Linked DNA regions of Homo sapiens. The gene in region 4 interacts genetically with the main gene of each other region. Each region holds a gene or a part of one and is shown on either strand. Other genes may lie near its edges.

Region 1 (3,865 bases), on a different chromosome or scaffold from region 4:
CACTATACCCAGCTAATGTTTGTATTTTTAGTAGAAACAGGGTTTCGCCATGTTGGTCAGGCTGGTGTCAAACTCCTGGCCTCAAGTGATTTGCCCACCTTGGCCTCTCGAAGTGCTGGGATTACAGGTGTGAGTCACTGCGCCCGGCGTTATATGGGAATTTTTATTAGAATTTTGGACCCAGCGCAGTGGCTCACGCCTGTAATCCCAACACTTTGGAAGGCCGAGGTGAGAGGATCGCTTGAGCCCAAGTGGTTGAGGCTACAGTGAGCTATGATCCTGCCACCGCACTCCAGCCTGGGCAACAGAGTGAAATCCTATCTCAATCAGTCAATCAATCAATCAATCAATGTATAATTTCCCTAATCTGTAAGAATTCATGTGACTCAATGATTTAAAAAAAAAAAAAAAAAAAACCTAACCTCTTACTAGGAGTGAAGAAAACCTAGGAGAACCAGTGTACAAACAGTGTCTGTGTCATGAACAGATTCTTGACCTCATTCACAGGAAGAGAAATGCACATTTCGAGGAGTTTCCACATCTCAGTCCTTGACACTTGCTATGGCCTGCTCCCTGTGGCTGGAAGGGCCATCTCTCCTCTAGGATGGAAGTTCTCCAACTGCTCCTGCTCAGCCCATTGCAGTCCTGTCTCCCTGGCCTATCGTCTCCAACTTCAAATCCTCATGGGCTCAGTTGTGCCCCTCCTCAGTATTTACAACTTCTTCCAGGTGGACACACTCAAGACAGCGGCTTCAAGCATCACCTATGTGCTAGGGTCCCCAAATGTGTACTGCTAGCCCTGCCACACACTGTCCCCTCAGAGGCCAAGTTACCCTGAGCAGTTGAATTTGGTGCCTCGATTGTCCTCATTCCCCACACGTCATCCATCCACACCCCAAATATGTCTTGAGTCCTTCCTATTCCCGTCCTGCTTCCTGGTCTTGACCCTGGACCACAGCAATAGGAGCATTTACAGATGAGTTTGTGTCTGCTTCACGCTGGGTTCTTCCTTCTCCATGCTCTGCTCCTGGCAAGCCCACATGTGCAATGTGAGGGTTTGCCCTCAGGCAAGCCTTTCCTGTGGCCCTTAGTCATGGAAAAGAAATGCAACTTTGTAAATGGATTTTAAAAGCCACTGCTTGCCACACTTGCCTGCCCTGGAAACCTTCATGCAGCAATCAATTCCTAACTCATACACATGGGGGAAAAGGGGGAAGAAGTGCGAGGCGAACACAACAGTCAAGCACACTTCAGGCCAGGTTCCTGCTGCATCTCTGGGGGCTCAAATGACCTTACGGGACACCACATAACATCCCAGGGGAGCGCCTCACACTCAAGGCCCTCCACCTGCTTCCTGTCTTGCTCCGGTTCAGTCCAGGAGTGGGCACTCAAGATGTACATCCGATGCTGGTGGCCCTCTGCTGAAAACTTCTCAGGGACATCCATCACTCATGAAATAAAATCCAGCTTCATCTGTGTGGGATCTGACCCCACGTGTCTCTCTAACTTCCTAACCCTCCACTCCCCACAGCAGCCCCCTGCTGTTGCTCCATCTTCTCCAACTCTTGCCCCCTGGCAATTGTTCCAGTGGAACCCTCCTAGGAGCACTCTTCCTGGCTCTCTGAACCTCTGGCCCTGCCCTCCTCCGGATGTCAGCCCAAAGTCACCATTGCCTGGAGGCCTCACCAGCCCCATCTCTGTCCCACTCAATTCTCTCTCAAGGTTCCTATCAGTTTCTTTGGCTGTCTCATTCATTTGTGTGTCTTGATACCATCCTAGCAGGAAGGCTCCAGAAGGACAGAGCCTTGAACTGGAGGCACCCAATGCCTCTCTGTGGAATAAAGAACAAGGAAGTGCAAAGGAAACAGACTGGAAGCTCATGGAGACAAGGGGAGGAGGGGCAAGGATTAGAGACCCATCTTGAACATACCAGGTGGACACAATCCCTCTGAGGGGCTGGACCTCTTTTGTTGTGGGGCCGCTCTCTGCTGGGGAGCTAGGTCTTGTTGGGTGATCAGAGCAGACTCAGCTGAGACCTGTGGGGACAAAGCAGGGATGGGCATGAGTGGCTTCCAGACCTCACCCCTCCCAGGATCCACTCACATTCTCTTGAGCCCAGGCACCCAAGCTAAACAGAACCCTCATCTTTCTTGCAGCTCTCACCTCTCAAACATCCTTTAGTGTTTGTTTGTCCCTTCATATTTCAGGGAAGGCCAAGTAACATACACCTGCAAAACTCTTCTAAACATGTTCATTCCAGAAAATGTGGGCAAGGAAAGTTTTTACAAGAATACACAGACCACACGTGATATTCTCAGCTAAAGATAGCATCCATTAATATTTTGTCTCATTTAGTTCCACTATTTTTCCATAGGTATGCCTATTCTCTCTTTCTCTCTTTCTCTTATTCTCTCTCACACAGACATACACACAGACACACATTTTTATAAATGGGGGTTATAATATAGCAAACTTAAAAAATTGGGATACAGGATCAAACATTAAATAGTGAACTTCTGATTTAAAAGGTGCCTGACATATAGACCAGAGAGCCCAGAAATGAACTTGCACGTACAACCATGTATTGCTCAACATTGTTCTGAGCAAAGGGTCATTAGGCAATTGTGTTGTGTGAACATCAGAAGAGTGTACTTACACAAACCTAGATGGTGTATCCTATGACACACCTGGCCTATATGGTATAGCCTTTTGCTCCTAGGCTACAAACCTGTGTAGCATGTTACATAATTGCATGGAGCCACCATCACATATGCAGTCTGTTGTTGACAGAAATGTTGTTATGTGGTGCATGACTGTATATGATCAAGTAATTTTTGGCAAAGGTATAAAGACCATTTAATTGAGAGGACAATCTTTTTAAAAATGGTCTTGGGAAATCTAGACATTGACTCATCACAAAACAATGACCTCGGACCTTTAACTTACACGTATACAAAAATTAACTCAAAATGGATCCAAAATCTAACATAAAAGTGAAAACCCTAAAACTTAGAAGAAAACATAGGAACTATTCTTCCTGACCTTGGATTTGGCAATGATTTCTTGAATGTGATCCCCAAAACACAAGCAATATAGGAAAAAAAGTAGATAAATTGCACTATGTAAAAATTAAAAACTTTTGTGCATCCAATGATGATCAACAGTGAAGGGGCAACCCACAGGAAGAGGAAAACATTTGCTAGTTGTATATCTGATAAAAGGTTAATATCTAAAATATATAAAAAACTCCAACTCAACAACAACAACAAAAAGCCAACAATGTGATTAAGAAATGAACAAAGAACTTGAATGGTAACAAGCTCCTGAATAGCCAATGTGTCAAAGAGGAAATCAAAAGGGAATTTTAAGAGTATATTAGAAAATGAAATGGAAACATAACATAACCAAATGTATGGGATGCAGCAAAAGCAGTTTTAAGAGGAAATGGCAATAAACGCCTACATCAAAAAAGAAGAAAGATCTCAAATACAAGACTTAATGTTGTACCTCAAGGAAATAGAAGAAAAGATACACTAAGCCCACAGTTAGCAGAACAAAAGAAATAATAAAAATCAGAGCAAAAATAAATAGAGACTGAAAAAAATACAAAAGATTATCAAAATTCTGTTAGTTTTTTGAAAAAATAAATGAAATCACTAAACTTTAACTAGACTAACTAAGAAAAAAGAAAGAAGACAAATAAATTAAATCAAAAATGAATGAGGAGGCCAGGTGCAGTGGCTCATGCCTATAATCCCAGCATTTTGGGAGGCCGAGACGGATGGATCACTTGAGGCCAGGAGTTGGAGACCAGCCTGGCCAACATGGCAAAACCTCGTCCCTAATAAAATACAAAAAAAAAAAA
Region 2 (3,865 bases), on a different chromosome or scaffold from region 4:
CACCTTTTGATGTATATTCCCAACTAAAGGACTAGGGAATAAGGAACTTAAAATACCACGTTTCCTTCACATTCCTTCCCACTACCCCTCCCCTCGAATTCTCTATCCTTCTACTTGGTTTACTGGGTTCATTGTTGTAGGTACTGTACTCAGCTGAATCTTGATATCTTTTTTTTTCCCCTTAGGATACTTCTACATAGACATAATCAAGTTTTGACTATTTGGAAACCAAGCATCATTAAAATTCTCTCAAACTCCTAATTGCGAAGAATCGATAACATTTCAAGAAGTGATAACATTTCTCTGAACAAGAAAAGAAGTGATTGACCACGTTTTAAAAGTACTCTGGCACTGGTGCTGTGTTTTCTTCCCCTCCCTAAATTTGAAGAACTATGGAGAAATGGTACTTGATGACAGTAGTGGTTTTAATAGGACTAACAGTACGATGGACAGTGTCTCTTAATTCTTATTCAGGTAATACATTTTTACTGGTTAAAAAAAAAACGAAATTTTCCTTTGAATAGGTGTTTGTTTGGGGAAAAGTTTACCATTTTCTGACCAGTACAGAGAAGAATTTCAGGCCTTTTTGATATGGTTGAGAAAATACATTTAAATGTCCAGTTCTAATAGAAAGAATATGGATAACAGCTAAATAGAAGCATGCGCTTTGTGATGTGAGAAAGCAAAAATGTGTTCTAACAGGTAAGATGACAAATTGAGAAATGATTCTGTATTAAACATTGAAGAGGAAAATGAGCTAGCACTTCAAGGGAGGGGTGGAGTCTGTTTAGGGTAGAGAAGCATATTACTGGATTAAAGGGAAGCGATCAGTGAACAAGAATAAAATTGGGAATGAGAGAGGGGGAATTGATGGAGTGTGGTCCTGGTGTGTTGGATTGGCTTAAATGTAACTCTGCAGGTACCTATTTAGCACGTCTCATGTTCCCGGCACTGTGCTAGCTTCTAAAAATACAAGATGAATAGCCAATACTCAGAGGGCCCACATTTTATTTTATTTTATTTTATTTTATTTTTTTGATACGGAGCCTCGCTGTGTCGCCCAGGCTGGAGTTCAGTGGCGCAATCTTGGCTCACTGTGACCTCTGCCTCCCGGGTTCAAGCAATTCTTCTACCTCAACCTTCCGAGTAGCTGGGATTACAGATGCACGCGACCATGCCCAGCTAATTTTTGCATTTTTAGTAGAGACGGGGTTTCACCATGCTGGCCAGGCTGGTGTCGAACTCCTGACCTCGTGATCCACTTGCCTCGGCCTCCCAAAGTGCTGGGATTACAGGCGTGAGCCACCGCACCCAGCTAGAGGGCCCACATTTTAATAGTTAAATGGTCACAACAGAGGGTGATAATTATAATGTAGGAGTATGTGTGAGGTACAGAGTTAATAGAGAGGTAAATGATCAAGATGCATTAGAGAAAACTTCAGGAAAGATGTTTGCATTCAAGATTTGAAGGATGAGTCAGAATTTTCTAGGCAAATGAAGTGGAGAAGGTATTATAGAGTGCAGGAACTTGTGCAACAGACATGGTGTCACAGAGCATGGTTATTATAAGTATTGTATTTGAGTTGCATGAAACATAGGAACAAAAAGGATGAGGAGAGAGTGACCAGAGAATAGGTTATACAATTAGCTGGGCAAATTATTTCGTTGTAGAAAAATAACTTATGTTAGTGAAAAAGGGTCATAGGAAAAAGAGATAGGTAAAGAGAAAAATGAGACAATAATATTAATAGTTGTAAGAGCTATGATATATACACAGACACATATATATACACAGACACACATTTACTCTCTACTTACACATTTACTATATACGAAGATACATATATGGAAATTTATATATATGTGTGTCTATATAGTAAATGTGTATATACACAGACACACACATATATAGGTATTTTATGCATACCTATATATGTGTGTGTCTGTATATAGTAAATGTATATATACACAGACATATATATGGATATACACAGACACACATATATATAAATATCTGTATATATGTGTGTATATAGCAAATGTGTATGTAGAGAATAAATGTGTATGTGTCTGTGTATATCGTAGCTTTTTTTTGAGAAAAAAAAGCTCTGTCACCCAGGCTGGAGTGCAGTGGCGCAATCTTGGCTCACTGTAATCTCCGCCTCCCAGTTTCAAGCTATTCTCCTGCCTCAGCCTCCTAAGTAGCTGGGATTACAGGTGCATGCCATCATGCCCAGCTAATTTTTGTATTTTTAGTAGAGACGAGGTTTCACCATGTTGGTCAGGCTGGTCTTGAACTCCTGACCTCGTGATCTGCCTGCCTCGGCCTCCTGAAGTGCTGGGATTACAGGCATGAGCCACCGTGCCTGGCCTGTAGCTCTTACATATAGATGTATACACACACACATACATATATGTTTTGTAAGACTTTTTTTTTTGGAGACAGGGTTTCACTTTCATCGTCCAGGCTAAAGTGCAGTGGCACAATGTTGGCTCATGGCAGCCTCCGCCTCCTTGGTGCAGTGATTCTGCTGCCTCAGCCTACCAAGTAGCTGGAAATACAGGCGTGCACCACGACGCCTGGCTAATTTTTGTATTTTTTGTAGACACAGGGTCTCACCATGTTGCCCAGGCTGGTCTTGAACTCCTGAGCTCAAGTGATCTGCCTGCCCCAGCCTCCCAAAGTGCTGGGATTACAGGTGTGAGCCACTATGTCCAGTCAATATTTTAACCAGACTATAGTTTCTCTTTTCTCTTAAAACATTTTTTTTTGGGGGGAGGCTAAGGTGGGTGGATTGCCTGAGCTCAGGAGTTCAAGACCAGCCTGAGCAACATGGCAAAACCCCGTCTCTATTAAAAATACAAAAATTAGCCGGGCGCACACCTGTAATCCCAGCTGCTGGGGAGGCTGAGGCACGAGAATTGCTTAAGCCCAGGAGATGGAGGTTGCAGTGAGCCAAGATCATCCCATTACACTTTAGCCTGGGCGACAGAGCAAGACTCTGCCTCAAAAAAAAACAAAACAACACACTTTTTTGGGCTATTTTTATTTTTCAATTTAATTTAATTTACATTTTTTTTTTTTTTTTTTTTGAGACAGGGTCTCCCCCTGTTGCCCAGGCTGGAGTGCAGTGGCATGATCTTGGCTCACTGCAGCCTTGACCTCTTGGGACCACAGGCATGTGGCTAATTGTCTGGCTAATTGTTTTGATTTTTAGTAAAGATGAGGTCTCACTGTGTTGCCTAGGCTGGTCTTGAACTCCTGGGCTCGAGCAATACTCCTGCCTCAGCCTCCCAAAGTACTGGGATTATAGGTGTGAGCCACTGCGCCCAATTTTTTCAAATACTCTGGCTTAATATAGTTTCTCTTTATTCAGCATGAATTTAAAGGATTTATAGAAAGAACTTGTAAGAACTACTATATTTTGAGTATGAGTATTTTCTTTAGTATTTACCACAACCACTGAAGACAGGTAATATCTTCGATTTACAAATGGAAAATGAGACAACCAATAAATGACAACTGGGATTCAAATATAGTTGTATTTAATTCCACAATCAGTGCTCTTATGACTGTGCTCTGTGGCTTCTGAATGAGTTCGAGGAATATGGAGGAAGTAAAATCACTTAAATGTAGCAGTTGACTTGGGCTCAAATCTTAGCTCTTTCACCTGTTAGTTGCCTGATCTTGGGGAATTTATTTAATCTCCTTGAGCCTCTTCTATCAAGTGGGGTATTAATACATACTTTAAGAGGGTTCTTGGCCGGGCCGTGGCTCACGCCTGTAATCCCAGCACTTTGGGAGGCCGAAGTGGGCCGATCACATGAGGTCAGGAGTTCGAGACCAGCGTGGCCAACACAGTGA
Region 3 (3,865 bases), on a different chromosome or scaffold from region 4:
CGTGATCTCGGCTCACTGCAACCTCCACATCCCAGGTTCAAGCAATTCTCCTGCCTCAGCCTCCCGAGTAGCTGGGATTACAGGCGTGTACCACCACACCCGGCTAATTTTTTTGTATTTTTAGTAGAGACGGGGTTTTACCATGTTGGCCAGGCTGGTCTCGAACTCCTGACCTCAAATGATTCACCTGCCTCGGCCTCCCAAAGTGCTGGGATTACAGGCGTGAGCCACCGTGCCCGGCCAGATTAAACAAAGATTTTAAAATAAAACACAAAAGCACAAGCAACAACAAAACACATAAACTGGACATCATCAAAATTTTTAAAAACTGTGTGTCAAAGGACAGTATCAAATAAATGAAACAAACCCCCACAAAATAGGAGAAAATATTTGCAAATCATGTATCTGATAAACATCTAGTATCCAGAATATACAAGGAATTCTTTTAAAAACAAAAAAACAACCCAATTTAAAAAATGGGCAAAGCACCTGAATAGATATGTCTCCAAAGGTATACGCATGGCCAAACAAACAAACAAACAAAAAAAAAAACAAGAAAAGAGGCTCAGCATCATTAGCCATTTGGGGGAAACAGGATCAAAACCACAGTGAGATACTACCTCATGCTCACTAGGGTGGCTAAAACAAACCAACAAAAAACCCTGGAAAATATAAGTGCTGACAAAGATGTAGAGAAACTGTAACCCTGGTATATAGCTGATAGGAATGTAAAATGGTGCAATCGCTGTTGAAAACAGTATGTCAGTTCCTTATTAAGTTAAACACAGAATTACCATATAATCCAGCAATTACCCTGCTAGATATATACATAAAAGAACTGAAAACAGGAATTCAAACAAATACCTGTACACAAATGTTCACAACAGCACTATTTGCAATAGCAAAAAGGTAGAAAGAACCCAAATATCCATCTGTGGATGAACATATAAAACAAAACGTGGTATTATCCATGCAATGGACTATAACTCAGCATTAAAAAGGTATGAAATACTGATACATGGTATACAATGTTAATGAACTTTAAAAACATCAAGTGAATGAAGCCAGAAAGAAAAGGTCATATATTATATGATGCCATTTATAGGAAATAACCAGAAAAGGTAAATCCATAGAGACAGAAAGCAGATTGGTAGTTGCTGGGAGCTAGAGGGAGAAGAAAATGGGGAGTGACTGTTTAATGGGTTTGAGGTCTTCTTCGTGAGTCATGAAAAGGTTTTTGACCTAAAGTTGATGGTTGCACACATGGTAAATGTAATAAATGTCACTGTCCTGTACAATTTAAATTGGTTAATTTTGTGTTATGTGAATTTCACCTCAATAAAGGAAATCTCAATGGTCATGGTTTCTAAAAACAGTTATGCTGCTTTCACTATTAAAAAGCTAAGTTTTGGCCATGCGTGGTGGCTCACGCCTGTAATCTCAGCACTTTGGGAGGCCAAGGAGGGTGGATCACCTGAGGTTGGGAGTTCAAGACCAGCCTGACCAACATGAAGAAACCTTGTCTCTACTAAAAATACAAAATTAGCCGGGCATGGTGGCACATGCTTGTAATCCCAGCTACCTGGGAGGCTGAGGCAGGAGAATCACTTGAACCCAGGAGCCAGAGGTTGCGGTGAGCCGAGATCGTGCCATTGCACTCCAGCCTGGGCAACATAAGTGAAACTCCATCTCAAACAAAAAACAAAACACAAAAAAACAAAAAAGCAAGCTATGCTTTCATTCATATGCAATTCTACAAAAGGTAAAACTAATCTACAGGAATAGAAAGTAGATTAATGGCTGTCTGGGGCCAACATGGGTACTCACTACCAAGAGGCATCAGGAAGCTTTCTGGATAAAGTTTTCTTTCTGGATAAACATTGTCTTACATAAAAATATTCCGTATCTTGACTGTGGTGGTGGATGGCTGCAGTGATACAGATGTATATACATCTGTCAAAACTTATCAAACTTTACCCTTAAAGTAGGTGTATTTTATACGTTGATTTCACCTAAATAAAGCTGGATCTTAAAAGCTACGTATGGCCGACTCAGTGGCTCATGCCTGTAATCCCAGCATTTTGGGAGGCCCAGGCGGGCAGATCATGAGGTCAAGAGATTGAGACCATCCTAGCCGACATGGTGAAACCCCGTCTCTACTAAAAATACAAAAATTAGCTGGGGGTGTCTGCGCACGCCTATAGTTCCAGCTACTCGGGAGGCTGAGGCAGGAGAACTGCTTGAACCTCGGGGAGGAGGTTGCAGTGAGCCAAGATGGCGCCACTGCACTCCAGCCTGACGACAGGGCAAGACTGTCTTGCGGGGGAGAAAAAAAAAGCTAAAGCTAAGTTTTGGCCAGGTGTGGTGGCTCATACCTGTAATACCAGCACTTTGGCAGGCTGAGGCAGGAGGATCGCTTGAGCCCAAGAGTTTGAGAACAGCCTGGGTAACGCAGTGAGACCCCTACTCCACAAAAAAGGGAAAAATCAGCCAGGTGTGGTGGCATGTGCCTGTAGTCCCAGCTAACTCAGAAAGCTAAGGTGGAAGGATCACTTGAGCCCAGGAGGGTAAGGCTGCAGTGAGCTGTGTTCACACCACTGCACTCCAGCCTGGGCAACAGAGCAGTCTTGATTACTCTTTGAAGGCCAGCACTGGCATTCAGTGTTGTTCTTCTTCCCTGATCTGAGCAAAATATGCTTATGAGGCCTAATGCGCAAAGCAACGCAGACGTTATACACTAAAAGCGGTCATAAACAAAAGGCACATCTGTCAAATAGTCCAAATATTAAAATTACAGCTGAACATGGTTGCTTACCAATTCTGGAAGAGGACAAATAGTTCCAGTATTCATATACAATCCTTCTACTACAATGAAACGCCGAGTTACACGAGCCTTGCGAGGATTCTTTAAAAGAGAAAAAGCAGACATCTTACATTTCAGTAACTCTGAAGACAAGATCTGTTACATATTCCCCAGCACTTTCACCTTACAAGATTTATTCCTAAAAAAATATTCTGAATGAATTGAAAGCTCAGTGTTTGTGATGGGTTATTTTGAGATGAACAACAGTACTATCTTCTCTCAGACGTTTTTCAGCTCACAGCATTAGCTAGGTGACCCGCCACACACACAAACTAATTAGGCCCTCTGAGAATATTAAAACACAAACAAAACCCTCCAAACCTCCAACTGGGAAGGGGCCTAAGGGACTTTCTAAAGAAATGGGAATGTTTTACATCATAATGGGGCTGACATTCCTGGGTTACATGGGTATAATCACTGGTCAAAATTGTATGGCTGCATTCATGTGATTCAATGTCTGTCAATTTTACCCAAAACAACTATAATGAAGGTCATCATCATGAAGATGGGGTGAGGAACAGATGGCACAAGAATGATGTAATGCTGATAACAAAGCTGGGAGAAGGGTACAGGGGGCTTCACTATACCACTGTGTTTCCTTCTTATATGTTGGCATTTTTCCATAACAAAAAGTTAAAAAACTCAAACCGTTTTCCTTCACCTCCCAAAAAAAGGGGCAACCCTGTTCCCTCCTCACTCCCCACTGATGTATTATCGGATCAAGTAAAATTTGACTATGAGCTTGTCCAATGATGTTCCCAGGTGGTGGGGTAGAGAGGTCTCCTTTTCTTTTTTTTGAGATGGAGTCTCACTGTCACCCAGGTGGGAGTGCAGTGGCGCCATCTCTGCTCGCTGCAACCTCCGCCTCCAGGGTTCAAGCAATTCTCTGCCTCAGCCTCCCGAGTAGCTGGGATTACAGGCACCCGCCACCACGCTCAGCTGATTTTTGTATTTTTAGTAGAGATGGGGTTTCACCATGTTGGCCAGGCTGGTCTTGAACTC
Region 4 (3,865 bases):
CACACTGCAATCTTTCACCAAAGTCTAGGTCTTGGCTTTATGGTTATAGATGCCATTTCAAAGGGTATACTAGATTATAGGATTCTTTCTGCGTTCTAGACCACTACATATGTATAAGAAATCATTGTGTCGCACATGTTCTCTTTTATTGATTTCACTTACCATTCAATAAATATGTCTTGTTAAGAAAATCAGCCCTTTAATTTTATTTGGAAATACCTCGTACTGCTGCTGGACTGTCATGTTCTGATGTGACTGCCCCTTTGGGGTCAGAGAGTAAAGCCACACTTCTGTAGGTCAGTGGTGGTATCTTTGCTTAAAGGAGTAGACATATCTAATGTCAATCATCTAGGAAAGAAGGAGAATTTTAAAAAGAAATAAAGTTTGGAAAATAGATATTACACCAAAGAAAAAGGTTGTGGCGGGAGGTGGGGAGGCAGTCATTCTTCAGTCTGGGCTAGGACAAAGGACTAGATTGATTGAGGACGGTCTGCAGAGGGAAAACAAGAACGCTCGCTGCCAGATAGATAATGCTTGGGGCCAGGCAAGGGTCAATCCCCAGGAGACTCCATAAATGAGCTGGAAGAGCAGTTATAGCCAGCCAGGAGTTTTTCCCTTTTTATTAATTCTCTTTGGTAAAGATATAGCCTCGCCTCAGGTGTGCAGAGGGAACTTTAACGGAAGAGCCTCAGGCTAGAGAGCTAAAAGAAGAGTAGTATGCTGGTGGCAGTAGTGATTGGTGAAAGATTCCCTGAAAGATGAGTCTTTGTGACAGGCAGCTGGAATACAAGATATAGGTATCTCTTTTGATATGGACATTCACTCTTCTGCCCAACTTAGCTGATCCAGATGCTATTTCATTAAAGTAGCTGGCATCATTTTATTCCTTATTTGAATAAATATCAAGGAGGAGGAAATCTCTTTGTTGAGGAATAGATTAAATGGTACCTTCTCTCTGCTAGGCACTGTGTTAAGATAGGGGGATGAAGGACAGACCCACTTCTTGTGGCTTACATTCTAGTCAGAGGAAAAGGACGTGTGAACAAATAAATGTAAAAATGTGTAACAGATGTTTCAATGAACATAGTTGCCAAAAACAAGGGAGAGATAACAAGGATATAATAATTTAATATGATGCATAGGCCTGAGTCCATGTTCTTCAATCTTAAACTTCTTTAAGAGACTAGTTATCCTATTGGCAAGTAATATCAGGAAAGATTCTCTAGCCTACAGTCTGAATTTTTCATTCCCTTATTATCAATGTGTTCAATACTAACTTTTTTTGCCTGGAGAAAAGAAAACAATATGTGGGGGATTTTACTTGTGGTCTCTAACATTACATTACCTTTCTTAAACTGGGAATTCAAACTCTGGATCTTATTTTCATAAATGGGGTTCAGGTCACCCAAAACCCTCTTGAAGTCAATAAAAATTTTAAAGGATCTGTGACCCATTTTTTAAAAGTCATTTTTTGTTTTTTTCATGTGAGAGGATATAATTAAGAATCACTTTGAGTTTCCTCTAAGACTGTGATGCAATAAGTCACCTTTTAAAAATATTTAGTACATATCCATCGGAGACCTTATCAGCAATGGAGCACTGACTCCATTAATAACAAGAGAGTAAACCTTTTATGTAATGGAAAAGCCATAGTTCTTACAAGCTATACATTCTTTAACCAAGGTAATATCAAAATATATTATGAGTGCATTTCCACTGTAAATACTTTGAATTTTAAAACTCTCTCATTCAAATCTCTGTTTTCTTTAATTTTTAGTATTTCCTCTTGTCTTTGGTGTTCTGCAATTTAAATGATATGTTTAAATGGGGTTTTTTTTCTGTTTTACAATAATATTGGTATACTTCATAAACATGAAAATTCATTATTTCTGGAAAATCCTTACCCATTATCTATTCAAGTCTTGCCTCTCCCACTTCTATATGTTTTCTTTTCCTGGAACTCTTACCTTCTAGCTCCATTACTCTTAACGATGTTCATACAAAATATTTTTTATGTCTCTGCATTTTGGGTATTATCATCAATTATGTTCTAATCTGCATTTAGCCCTTCCATTAATTTTTTTTAAGAATTGTATTTTTTACTTATAGATGTTCTATTTGTCCTTTTCTTTAAAAATGTCATTTTTTTCTTAAGGTTTGATTTATTCTTTTATATTGTCAACATTTATATGTACTTTTAAAGATTCTTTTTCATGTGGTTGTATTATCTCAACTTTTTAAAAAATCCACTAACTACTGCATGTCTTATATCTACTCACTCATGGTCGATTGAGTCCATGGTCCACTGACTCTCACTCTTGGTCGATTGTTTCCTTGTGTGTTTTGTTATTCATTATAGCAAGCATATCTTTAGCAGGACTTGCTTTCTTCTTGAAAAGCCTAGGCAATCTAGATGCTTGATACTAGTCTTTCATAATGATTTTGTGTTTTACTCTTATAGGAACCTCAGGAGTATTTTCCATGTTGACTATTTCTAGGCTAGTTAGGTAGGGTATAAAAACAAAAACCCCAAAAACGATATTCTCAAGGGGAGTGTTCTTTTCTTCTTACTGTTAAAGTTTCCTGTTCTCACTGTATGCTGGTGGGCATATATTTCTAGCCTACATTTTTATTTAATGGCTTTATGCAGGGCACAGGGGTATCTCAGTTCCAGCTCTCTGCCTCATCTGGCACCAAGAGTTTACCTTCTTTCTGTCTCATATGGACATCAGATTCCAGGCTTCTTCGTCACTGGGACGCATAACTCACAGGGCAACCACATCATCACTTCACAATCTATACTCGCTTTTAATGTCTTTGTTCTTAGCACATGGTAGATTACCCTTTTATTTTTCACAAAATTGGGAGATGTTTTAAAATCATTTAAAATCTTTTATCCAGTACTGCCAGGTGTCTGTAACCATAAATTTTTCAGATTGTCTCAGTCAGCTGAATTGCCAGTGCTTTAGTTTACAGTTTACTGTTTCATTATTCATAATCAATCAATTACTCCTTCCCAAGCAGAAAGTTTAGTTGGACTGTGTTTTCAGATCCTGAGATTTTAGAAATGCTTAACTTTTTTAAATGTCTGGGATTCTTCCCCAAGTTCAGCAGTGATGAACTGTAAACATACCTTTAAAGTTCTAAATAAAGGAAATCTGAAATGCCTCCTGGGACCTTGGCAGGACATGGGCCTTTCTTGCTAATCACCATTACAAATTGATCACAATAGAGAATATTAATTGATTTGCTATTGAAAGTTGAATAAAGAGAAAATCTGAGCCATTTTCTTCTGAACACCATTTCAATTTATTACTATTTTAACTATTAAGGCCTTATTTAACTATTAAGGCCTTATTGCACATAATTGCTCACAAATAAGATAATTTACCATAATTTTCAGTTTTACTACTGAAAACTGAAGCCCCATAAATATAAATAAAAACTGAAGCCCCATTACTACTGAAGCCCCATTACTACTGAAGCCCCATAAATATATGTAAAAAATTTTTCTAAATAAGAAAACTATGAAACAGAAATTTTTGGCAAGAGTCATAGAATTTATTCCACAGAAATGACAACTTACAAAGACTTGGGATCTTATAAGGGAAAATCTCAATGATTTGAGAAATGGCAATATTCATATCTAAAATGTACTAGTGATTGCCACTTTCAGAAATGATACACCTCCCACTATGAAATTGTATAAATCACAAGTCAAAAGCATATGGAAGAGTTGATTTCTACTCTACCAGAGGGAGTAATTTTCTTTAGCTCTTTCTCATACATCATAGGTGTGAAGTACTTTTGTTTCTTGGTTAAAATTTTTCTGTTAGTTGATTATTCAACTAGAAAAACTTAAAAT

What was found. Genes that interact genetically often act in the same process or in processes that back each other up.
Region 1: changes in TRPC6 (region 4) and TNFRSF10B together harm fitness less than expected from each alone (positive genetic interaction), as found in Homo sapiens cells (one large-scale study listed by BioGRID).
Region 2: changes in TRPC6 (region 4) and ALG6 together harm fitness less than expected from each alone (positive genetic interaction), as found in Homo sapiens cells (one large-scale study listed by BioGRID).
Region 3: changes in TRPC6 (region 4) and SPTLC1 together harm fitness less than expected from each alone (positive genetic interaction), as found in Homo sapiens cells (one large-scale study listed by BioGRID).

Annotation. Positions count from the first base shown.
Region 1 is NC_000008.11:23,041,208-23,045,072, forward strand, and holds part of TNFRSF10B (tumor necrosis factor receptor superfamily member 10B isoform 1 precursor), read right to left. Parts: intron 2,037-3,865; coding exon 1,931-2,036; intron 1-1,930. UniProt on the Homo sapiens protein: Receptor for the cytotoxic ligand TNFSF10/TRAIL. The adapter molecule FADD recruits caspase-8 to the activated receptor.
Region 2 is NC_000001.11:63,370,586-63,374,450, forward strand, and holds part of ALG6 (dolichyl pyrophosphate Man9GlcNAc2 alpha-1,3-glucosyltransferase), read left to right. Parts: intron 1-185; 5' UTR 186-392; coding exon 393-474; intron 475-3,865.
Region 3 is NC_000009.12:92,052,590-92,056,454, forward strand, and holds part of SPTLC1 (serine palmitoyltransferase 1), read right to left. Parts: intron 2,906-3,865; coding exon 2,816-2,905; intron 1-2,815. UniProt on the Homo sapiens protein: Component of the serine palmitoyltransferase multisubunit enzyme (SPT) that catalyzes the initial and rate-limiting step in sphingolipid biosynthesis by condensing L-serine and activated acyl-CoA (most commonly palmitoyl-CoA) to form long-chain bases.
Region 4 is NC_000011.10:101,577,143-101,581,007, forward strand, and holds part of TRPC6 (short transient receptor potential channel 6), read right to left. Parts: intron 1-3,865. UniProt on the Homo sapiens protein: Forms a receptor-activated non-selective calcium permeant cation channel. Probably is operated by a phosphatidylinositol second messenger system activated by receptor tyrosine kinases or G-protein coupled receptors.